3 linked regions of the Homo sapiens genome follow. The protein of the gene in region 2 purifies or fractionates together with the protein of the main gene of each other region. This does not show direct contact. Each region holds a gene or a part of one and is shown on either strand. Other genes may lie near its edges. The genes, in order: RNASEH2A, KLHL1 and ARHGEF7.

The links.
Region 1: the proteins of KLHL1 (region 2) and RNASEH2A purify together in Homo sapiens (affinity purification with mass spectrometry; one large-scale study listed by BioGRID and IntAct). This does not show direct contact.
Region 3: the proteins of KLHL1 (region 2) and ARHGEF7 purify together in Homo sapiens (affinity purification with mass spectrometry; one large-scale study listed by BioGRID and IntAct). This does not show direct contact.

The regions. Positions count from the first base shown.
Region 1 is NC_000019.10:12,809,429-12,811,861, forward strand, and holds part of RNASEH2A (ribonuclease H2 subunit A), read left to right. Parts: intron 1-642; coding exon 643-780; intron 781-888; coding exon 889-976; intron 977-2,433. UniProt on the Homo sapiens protein: Catalytic subunit of RNase HII, an endonuclease that specifically degrades the RNA of RNA:DNA hybrids. Participates in DNA replication, possibly by mediating the removal of lagging-strand Okazaki fragment RNA primers during DNA replication.
Region 2 is NC_000013.11:70,105,547-70,109,997, forward strand, and holds the start of KLHL1 (kelch-like protein 1), read right to left. Parts: upstream 2,907-4,451; 5' UTR 2,154-2,906; coding exon 1,657-2,153; intron 1-1,656.
Region 3 is NC_000013.11:111,303,147-111,306,263, reverse strand, and holds the end of ARHGEF7 (rho guanine nucleotide exchange factor 7), read right to left. Parts: 3' UTR 532-3,117; downstream 1-531. UniProt on the Homo sapiens protein: Acts as a RAC1 guanine nucleotide exchange factor (GEF) and can induce membrane ruffling. Functions in cell migration, attachment and cell spreading. Promotes targeting of RAC1 to focal adhesions. May function as a positive regulator of apoptosis.

The sequences.
Region 1 (2,433 bases), on a different chromosome or scaffold from region 2:
AGAGCCCTCTTCCCCAGATCTCTGCACAGTTCACTTCCTCACCTCCTTCAAGCCTTTATTCACCACTACACCTAGCTAACTTTTTATTTTTTGTAGAAACAGGGTCTCCATATGTTGCCCAGGTTGGTCTCAACCACCTGCCCTCAAGCGATCCTCCCACTTCGGCTTCCTAAAGTGTTGGGATTACAGGCTTGTGCTAACGCACTCTACCAATTTTTTTCTAGTGTTTTCTGCCACCTCAGTTCCTAGAACAGTATGTGGCATGCAGTAGGTGCTAAATAAGTTAGAGTAAAAGCAGCGTGATAGAGAAAGCCTCTTCAGGAGGTGAGTTTTTTCTTTATTTTATTGTATTTATTTTATGTTTTTATAAAGATGGGGTCTCACTGTGTTGCCAAGCCTGGCCTCAAACTCCCAGGATCAAGCGATCCTCCCGCCTCAGCCTCCCAAAGTGCTGGGATCACAGGCCTGAACAACTTTGCCTGGTCTAGGAGGAGATGTTCGAGTTGAAATCCCTGATTGATCCATCCTGGGGACGTGCTGGAGAAGAGGATTCTGGGTAGCAGGAAGAACGTGCCAGGGCTGTGAGGCTAGAGCATTGGTACAGTTGTTTGTTCAATTAATATGTGTCTGTTGCTGTGGCAGGTATTCGTGGACACCGTAGGGATGCCAGAGACATACCAGGCGCGGCTGCAGCAAAGTTTTCCCGGGATTGAGGTGACGGTCAAGGCCAAAGCAGATGCCCTCTACCCGGTGGTTAGTGCTGCCAGCATCTGTGCCAAGGTCAGTACCCTACTAGCCATGGCTGGCTTCCACCATCCCACTATATAGGGGCCAGGCATGGCCACCAAAGGGAAGGAGGGAGATTCCAGGTGCCTGTTTTGCCCACAGGTGGCCCGGGACCAGGCCGTGAAGAAATGGCAGTTCGTGGAGAAACTGCAGGACTTGGATACTGATTATGGCTCAGGCTACCCCAATGGTGAGCAGACACGTGACCATGGTACTAATGTTGAAATGGCCAGGGCTGAGCACACTTCTGAGGTTTTCTTTTTTTCCTTTCTGTCATTTATCATTTTATTTTGCTTATTTTTTGTTTTTATTTGTTATTTTTGTTTATTTTTTGAGACGGAGTTTCGCTCTTTTTGCCCAGGCTGGAGTGTAATGGTGCGATCTCGGCTCACCGCAACCTCCACCTCCTGGCTTCAAGCGATTCTCCTGCCTCAGCCTCGCGAGTAGCTGGGATTACAGGCATGTGCCACCACACCCAGCTAATTTTGTGTTTTTAGTAGAGACTAGTTTTCTCCATGTTGGTCAGGCTGGTCTTGAACTCCTGACCTCAGGTGATCTGCCTGGCTCAGCCTCCCAAAGTGCTGGGATTACAGGCATGAGCCACCGTGCCCAGCCTATTTTTTGTTTTTATAGAGATGGGGTCTTGTCATGTTGCCCAGGCTGGTCTCAAATTCCTGGAGTCAAGCAGTCCTCCCACCTTGGTCTTTCAAAGTGCTGGGATTACAGCCATGAGCCACCACCCCTGGCCCTTTTTTTCTTCTTTTTTTAAAGAGATGGGGTCTCCCTATGTTGCCCAGCCTGGTCTTGAATTCCTGGGCTTAAGTGATCCTCCTGCCTTGGACTCCCAAATAGCTAGGATTACAGGTGTGAACTACTGTGCCTGGCTGGAGGTTTTCTAAATTGCTCTGGTCACCCTACTCCACAGTGAAAGAGGCCAAGTGTTAGACAGTGGTGCCATTTGTTTATGGCCACACAGCCAGTGAGTGATAGAGCTGAATTCCAGGCCATAGGATTGCTGCTGTCTTCCCCGCTTCCCACTTTGCTGTCTTTCTGGAGCCCCAGTGATGGACTGAGACCCAAGGTGGGCATTTGTCCCTTTGTTAAGGGGAAGGGGACCAGGCGTGGTGGCTCATGCCTGTAATCCCAGCACTTTGGGAAGCTGAGGTAGGAGAACCGCTTGAGTCCTCGAGTTCAAGACCAGCCTGGGCAACATAGCGAGACCCCCATCTCTATAAAAAATTTAAAAAATTAGCCGGTTATAGTGGTGCCCACCTGTAGTCCCAGCTACTCTGGAGGAGGAGGCTAAGGTGGGTGGGTTGCTTGAGCCCAGGAGTTGGAGGCTGCAGTGAGCTATGATTATGCCACTGCACTCCAGCCTTGGTGACAAGATGAGATCTTGTGTCAAAAAAAAAAATAATGTTAGCCAGGCGTGGTGGCTCACACCTGTAATCCCAGGACTTTGGGAGGCTGAGGCAGGTGGATCCTTTGAGGTCAGGAGTTCTAGACCAGCCTGACCAACGTGGTGAAACCCCATCTCTACTAAAAATACAAAATTAGCTGGACGTGGTGGCACACGCCCGTAATCCCAGCAACTCGGGAGGCTGAGGCAGGAGAATTACTTAAACCTGGGAGGTGGAGGTTGCAGTG
Region 2 (4,451 bases):
ATCAGTTTTAATAAAATAGTAACAGATAAATACTTAACCTAGTTTCCTTTTGAATATATAAGGTGAATTGCTTAATGTTTCTGGATAATTCCTCCCAAAAAGTGTTTATATTTACTCAACAAAAGGGTATAAAAATTTCAGTACATTTGATTTTTTAAATTATAAAATTATAGGTAACTAGCATATTAAATAACTTTTAATAACATTTTATAACTTCATAGTATTCATAGTACCTAACGTTATAATTCTTTTTCCTAAAATATTTCACTTAATGGAATGATAGATAAACTTATATTTAGGTCTCCTATATATGGAAAAACCATTGACACAATTGATAATTCCAGATTATACTTCTCCCTCATTAAAATTATCTTACATTATAGTACATGTCTTAATATAACATTAGAATATGTTCAATCTCTGAAAATTAAAATTAAAAAATATATATAATGTATATAATTGAAAATTTTTAAGGATATTTTTAAATCTATAACCACATATGTCAGCATAATTAGGGAGCACATATATACATACACACACATATATACACATATAGGTTATACATATATAATTTTATCTATTCTTTTTGGTACTTAATCAAATTTATAAGAAACTGATTCAATCAACCAAAAGACTAAAAAAGATGCTTCTGTTACTAATTTGTTACTGTGTAGTAATTAAAATTTCTTAATATATACATTATCATTTTCCTATATTTCTCCTGTAGTTCTTCTTTAATAATGTATTCTGATATCACATGAATCTAAATGCAAATCATTTCATATCCTGACTATATTCCAAAACCAGTAATGATGTGGTTTAGAATAGTAATGAGTCAATTCTCTCAAAATGTAAAACTTGGGAGTTTTATGTCTATGAAGGATTTTCTGTAAGTCTTTAAAGTAGCAGAACTCTACACAAAGAAGCATAATATTTGAAATAAACTAGAAATAAATATTGAGCTGTTTACCAAGGAGACAAAATTTCAATACTGAGCCAACAAATCACAACAGCTAAATGCAAAGGGACTCCACGACAGTTTAACTCAAAGACTTACTCTGAACAAGGCAAGAGTGAACACAAAGTAAAAGGACCAGAAGAGAAGTTGGGACAGAGAATAAGACGACTGCATTTCAGGAGCAAAAAGAGAGGTAAAATAATGTTGCTGTCCAGTGGCCTCATTTTGTCCACCTCATTACTCCTGGAATAGATTCAAACCACAGGGACCTTAGATAATATGCTAAGTCAGTTACTAGGCCAATATATGAGATGCATTCTGATGATGTGTAAAGCAAAATTTCATCTTCAGATAATGGAACGACTGATATAATTTAATGACGGTAGATGACAGAAGAACACCATAATCTCAGGAATATGAGAACTATTCCACTTGAAGGCTTACAAAAATGCATGTAAGTTCAATTGGTGGCTACAACTTTGAAAACTTCCAAAAAGAAAAGTGAGGTGTCTGAACCAATAGAAATTAATGAGCAAACTTGTAATGAAATTAGAACTTGAGTAATCAAAACCAGGGTGGCATCTCTTAACCCACATTTTCAACCTGAAACATTTTAGACTTAGTAGCCACATGAGCACACGCGGTGAAATGAGTGGAAATTGAGAGATGCTTGGAAGCCCCGTGGGGACTTACTGTACCTGTGTCCACATCCTTCACCTGTTGCCTGGCTAGAGTTGTCTGGCTCCACTTTGAGCTCTTGCAGAACCAGCCCTTTTTCGTGTGGTCCAGGAAAGTCCATGCCTGGCACCACCTCCTCCTCTAGTGACTCCACGTAGAAGAGAGTCCTGGCTGGCTGCTGAGTGCCCTGCCCAGGAGCCCCTTGCTGCAGCCTCGTGGCAACTGGAAGCAGGGTGCCATTCAGCGGATTGAAGGAAGAGGAGGAAGAGGACGGGGAGGACGATGAAGAGGAAGAGGAGGAAGGCTTCTTCCAGAAAGTGCTCACACCGCTTCTCTCTTGGCTTTTGAGCAGGCGACTCTGGCTGGGTCCCCAGTGCTCAAAGCTGCCACTGCCGTCCTGTTGCAGGCAGCCTCCCCCCGCCGGGCCGCCGGTGGAAGGAGACGGGTGGCTGAAGAGTTTCCAGCGGAGTCGCAGAATGTGCTTCACATCGAAGTCTTTTCGCCCAGAGCCTGACATGCTTTACGCACAGAAGGCAAAAGGCTGGCAGCTCACGCAGGAGTAGGCTGGTCAGCAGGTGGGGGAGGACAGCGGGGCCCGGGGGCGGAGGAAGAGGCGGGATGCGCCCTCTGCACCCCTAGAGCCAGAAGACGCTAGGTGGGCTGCGCGCTCTGCCAGGCGAAGGCTGGAGCGCAGACGGCAAAGCCGCGCGTTTCAGCCGTGGTCGGGTCCGCAGGACCTGGGCGTGGGGACACCACCAGGCAGGAGCAGAGGCAGGACTGGGACGCCAAAAGCTGAGAATCCTCGATGCCCGCGCGAGAGCCCCGTGTTATGGCGAGGTGGGACAACCCTTAGGCTGGAGATGCGCGAGGGAGGGAGGTCTGAGCGCTCCGAAGCTCCGGAGGCGGCTGCAGCTGGATACACCTCACTGGGATGCGCTTGTGGCAGAGCCTTAGTAGGGAAGGTGGTGGCGTTCTTGTCCTTGCAGCTCAGAGTTCAGTGTCTGGAGAGCGCAGAGAGAAAGAGCCCCAAGTCTCGAGGAAGCGTACCCCTCGCCAGATCTCTTGGTGCACCTGCGCCCCTGTCCCTGGCCTTTTCGAGGATGCCCCGATAGCCTGCCGGGTGGCTCTGAGAAAGTCAATTGCTTTCTGCAATGCCAGAAGAGGTGGTTTTATATAGTCAGTTTGTAAAAGAGAAAAATAGATATTCTAGCGCATATAGGGAGGCAAAAGAAAAAGCCCGCCTGTGAAGCTGTCAAGGTCCTCACAGTACAATTTTCTCTCTGCCTCAGCGCCTCCTCCTCCCCTGTAAGTGACGCAGATGTGCACTGGGGCCTATACGGAGAGATGGAGGGAGGGAGGGAGGGAGGGAAGGCTTCAATCTTCTTTATGCAAGTGAGACTGCTGCTCTTATTGTCCCCTTGCGTGGGTCTTGTCACCTTTTTTCACCCTCCTTCCTCGCTACATTACTGTGTAGCAATACAAGGAAAGAAAACAGGCATTATGCTTTTGCATCAGTAAACACCACACATGAATCATGGCAGTGTAAACTTAATAGGCTGCCATCAGTTTGCAGGTTGCAGGTTAATGGCTTGAATTATTTAATGAACCGCGTCTTTTAACCTTTAGCCTTAGTTTCTCTGTAGTGAGACACAGAAGAAACGGATGCTGGCGTCAAAATGTGACGATGCCACCATCCTGACACTTACATTGTGATTCTGCTATTAAGGCACCCAGGCACTGCTTCACTCCTGGGGCCAGAGGCGTACGGTAGAAATTTGAAGATGGGCATCTGAACACGGGGGACGGGTTTTGCGAAATCAGTGCATTTGGTGTGTAGCCTCGGAATGAAAGCTGTTATCAGTGTAAATCAAGAATGGAATAAAATGATAAAAGAGAATTTCAAGGTATAACCTTCTAGTACATAAATCATTGTATACTATGCATGGAAGAGTTTAGGCAATAAATGAGAATAGCCGAAGGCTACTTACTATCTTGCAAATAGGCGTTTGGAGAAGATGTGTTTTCCCCTTATATCTATACTTAGAATGGTGAGGATTGCGATCACTTTCAGTACATGACTACTTGGAATGTTTTAACCTTTCCTTTAATGAGCCATTAAGATAGAACCCAGTAGTCTTTGTTGAAGGCAAAGGGACCAGAAATGCAATGTGTTCCCTAACTTAACCAAGAATATGGTTGTTGTCCATTCATGAAATTCACAGTTTCAGTAACCCCCAACAGAGCATAGGAATCAACCACTGAAGTGCAGTTAGGCTACTGCTCAGTTACCCCCAAGGTTGAGCTGTAAACGTAACCAGAAACCAAAGCTAAATTTGGAGTCCTTAGGCAAAGTTGGACGCTTTAATAAAATAAGAAATTAAGTGCACAAAAGACCTATTTTTAGGGGAATAAAAATCACTATAGTGCTTTTAAAATATTGATTTATGCCACAACAGCTGGACTGCAATCCCTTGTGCCTTGATTTTTCTCTCAGTATTCAGTGATTTTTTGTTTGTTTTTTGTTTATTAAGCAAAAAACCCTTTAAAGCCAACAATGGTGACAGATCATTTTTATCCAACAATGGAATCAAGTAAGCATTTCCCTTAGGGAAGAAAATAGTTTATGAAATTACACATCACAAACAGGACAGAGGAAACTTTCCATCAGAAATAATGTTGAAAGTTGAAGTGCATGTAATTAATTTATATAGAAATTAGTGCTTCATGGATTATCTCACTTGATTTATTTAAAATAATATAAAATAACATAAGTCAAGTCTCTGTATCTATATTTTTCATTCACCATTCACAAACT
Region 3 (3,117 bases), about 41 Mb from region 2:
TGGCTGGCTGAAATGACATGCAGCGGAGCTGTAGACACACCTGAGCCAGGTACACGGACCATGGACAGGAGACCCCGCTTGGTCCTCCCGGCCACCCTTCCGGAAGACACCCTCGTTTGCACCACCGCCACACAGGGACACACACGAGCAATTTCCTTTTGTCTTATGACAGCTCCTAAAAGGGACCCCACAGATATCTTCAAGAAAGTTTCGCTTACTTGATCCCACAAAACGGTGTCCTGAGCGCCTTCCAGAATGCAGGTCATTCCTCCAGGCATGGGTGAGGACCTGGGGGCTGTGCCTACCAGCGTGACCTGTTACTTCAGCTTTTGTTCCTAAGACTTCCAGTGTTCTTTCCTTGTCTTTTAAAAAAAAATCTTCAAATTTTCTCAAACTCTAGACTTTAAAGGAAACATGTTATCTTCAGTATCAAAGACAGACAGAATTTTCAAATCTAAAACAGCCCAAAGAAACTGTAAAGCTAACAAGCACACAGAAAACACATCAAAGAAGACGAAGCGACACATTCTGTGACATAAGAAAAATAATCAGTTTAATAATTACAACAGTGTAGCATCAACATTGTAGTAGTCAACACTAGGACATTGTCTGTGACATTTAAATTAGGAGTTTCTCCACACTTGTCAACAGGCGCCCTGGGTGTCCCAGAGAAGTGAAGAAATGATTGGCATTAAGGAGTCCACACAACCAGGGCAGGCATTCAAGGTCCCAGACGCCCAGCGCATGTGGACAAGCACAGACGCCACTGAGTGTGAAGGAACGAGCTTCTGATGCTACATTCCAACATCGCTGAAAACTGAAAGTGCTTCACATCTACAGGATAAGAAATGGCTTCATCTCCTCATCCATACAAGGTGAGAGCAAAGGAGTAACCCTCGGGCAAATCGTGGCCCCTTTAAACGTTTATATCAAGTTCCCACCCCCTTGGGAGGTCACACGGTGAAACAGACACAGTTATATACAACAGGGCAGGTTTTTAAAAAGAGTTGCTCTCAGACGCATTTTTCCTGCTCCCTAAAAAGCCGAGGAAGATACTGGATCCACAGAAAGAAAAGGCAATGCCGTAACATGAGGCCCTCATGGCCGCACCGTCCAGGGGAAGGGCTGTTAAAAACACAAGTATTCTTGTGAAATACTTCGATCTGAGCATTAAGGCAGGTCTGCAGGAGATCCGTCCTGGGGACTCGGACAGCAACGCTACCGGCTCCGAGAGGACAGTTAATGTCGCCTCCCGGCAGAGGGGCGGAGAGATCAGACAAGAGTTGTTCCTGAGTTAAAACCTGCTACAACAGCAAACTCCAATAAACTCAAGTTGAATGGTTTCCCACTGCAATGTCTTACGCATCACCAAAAAATAACTTGTAAAACTCAAGCTTACCAAAAAAGAAAGTGTTGATCTTTGCTTGTGCCCGCATGAGTGAATGATCTGCTAAGTTGAGGAAGCTGGCAATTCTAGTGAAAAGTCCAGGTGAGGCCAGGTTCTGCAGCATGGGGCAGGTCCACGCTGAGCCCAGGCAGACAACGTGACCAGTCACGGAAGGAAGCCAAAGGGGCTTGCTGGGCACCAGAGACTGTAATTAGCAAGGGCAAGGAAGAACCGTAAACAGCAACACAACACTCTCCCAAGGTGCCCAGCTCAAAGGCATCAGTACACAAAGGATTCAGGTGCAGTTAAAGGGCAATTTGGCCAATAGACAGAAAATCAGAGAGTCAAATCTGATGCGCAATGAGTTGTTCTGAGACCAGTAATCCACGGTGCTGCAATTTGGGTTTTTAAAGATAGAACACTTGTTCTACGGAAAAGTGTATCTCACTTTAAAACCAACCTTTTCACAGGAAAGGAAACCAAAAGCAAAGTCCCTGTGGTCACCCTTATTTATTGCTGAAGCAGAACGAAAACCTGCTCCACGGGCCGGGCTTCCTGCCCAGGACCGCACAGGCTTTCCAGAGCCAGCCTGGGCCCAGCGAGCCGCGGTGAGGACAGGCTTCGTCTCCTCTGCACTGGAACACAGTGGGGGAAACGTTCCCTGCTTATGCCTATGTTACTTAGTGGAACCTAAGGTGTATATTGCTTTATTCTTGCTGAAGGAGGGGATTTTACTTTCGGTGAGCACTGAAGCCTGCTGGCTACGGCCAATGGTGGAGGAGACCTCGGGATGAGGCTGGCCTGATGACAAAACTCCACCCATCAGTATCAGCCTGCAGCATGGCCTCCATCTGTTTTCATCAGCTGCAGTGACTTATAATAAATAATACATTCTATTTACAGGTTCTAGTAAGATCTCTCTTTGAGGGAAGACAAAACAGTGTATTTTGTTGTTACTGAACTAGCCTATACAGAACCGTCTGTGTCCTCCCAAAACGCAGCAAACTCATCTGAGAATCACAGTACTCAGACAGCGGACAAGAGCAAACACCTCTAGGTGGATGCGGCAGTGCCGTATGGGCCTTCCTTGAGGTCAAGACTGAGTCTGTCAGCCAGCAAGTTGCCCTCAGAAACCCGCAGGTCTGGGACTGTAATGCTGCTTTAAGAGAAGACTTCTGAATGGGACTGAAGTGTATCTCTGCAGGTATAAATAAGGTTATTTAGAAATACCGACATGGGGGGTGCTGCCACAGCACGGTGGAGGCCCTGGTGCTGCGGAACGAACCAGGCATCCACCAGGCTTCTGCTTCCGGTGGATGCGGGCATGGGACTTCTTATTCACGTAGCTGGAAAGGACATTCTAGCATGGGGATTAGCCCGGACAGAACCACCACAGGTATGCATTCAAAATGGGATATTTACAAGAAACATGTATATATAATATTTATATATTCAATTCAAAGTCTGGAAAAACAAGACTTTTAGTCAGTCACTGAACTTATTGCAGAATGAGGTAACTGAGATGTTCACAGAGTGGATTGATGTAGCTCAGGTCCTCAGAGTCAATCCCTCCTGTCTGGATTCATCAGTCATGGTTTGATCGTCTCCATTCGCAGAATAAGCTCCAGCTTTTCTATATACAGAGAGCAAGGTGGCGCCCCACCCAGCCCTGCCCTGTGGTCCTGAGTGCACCCCGACTTGGGTCAGGGGTGCCCAGCTTCACCTCAGAA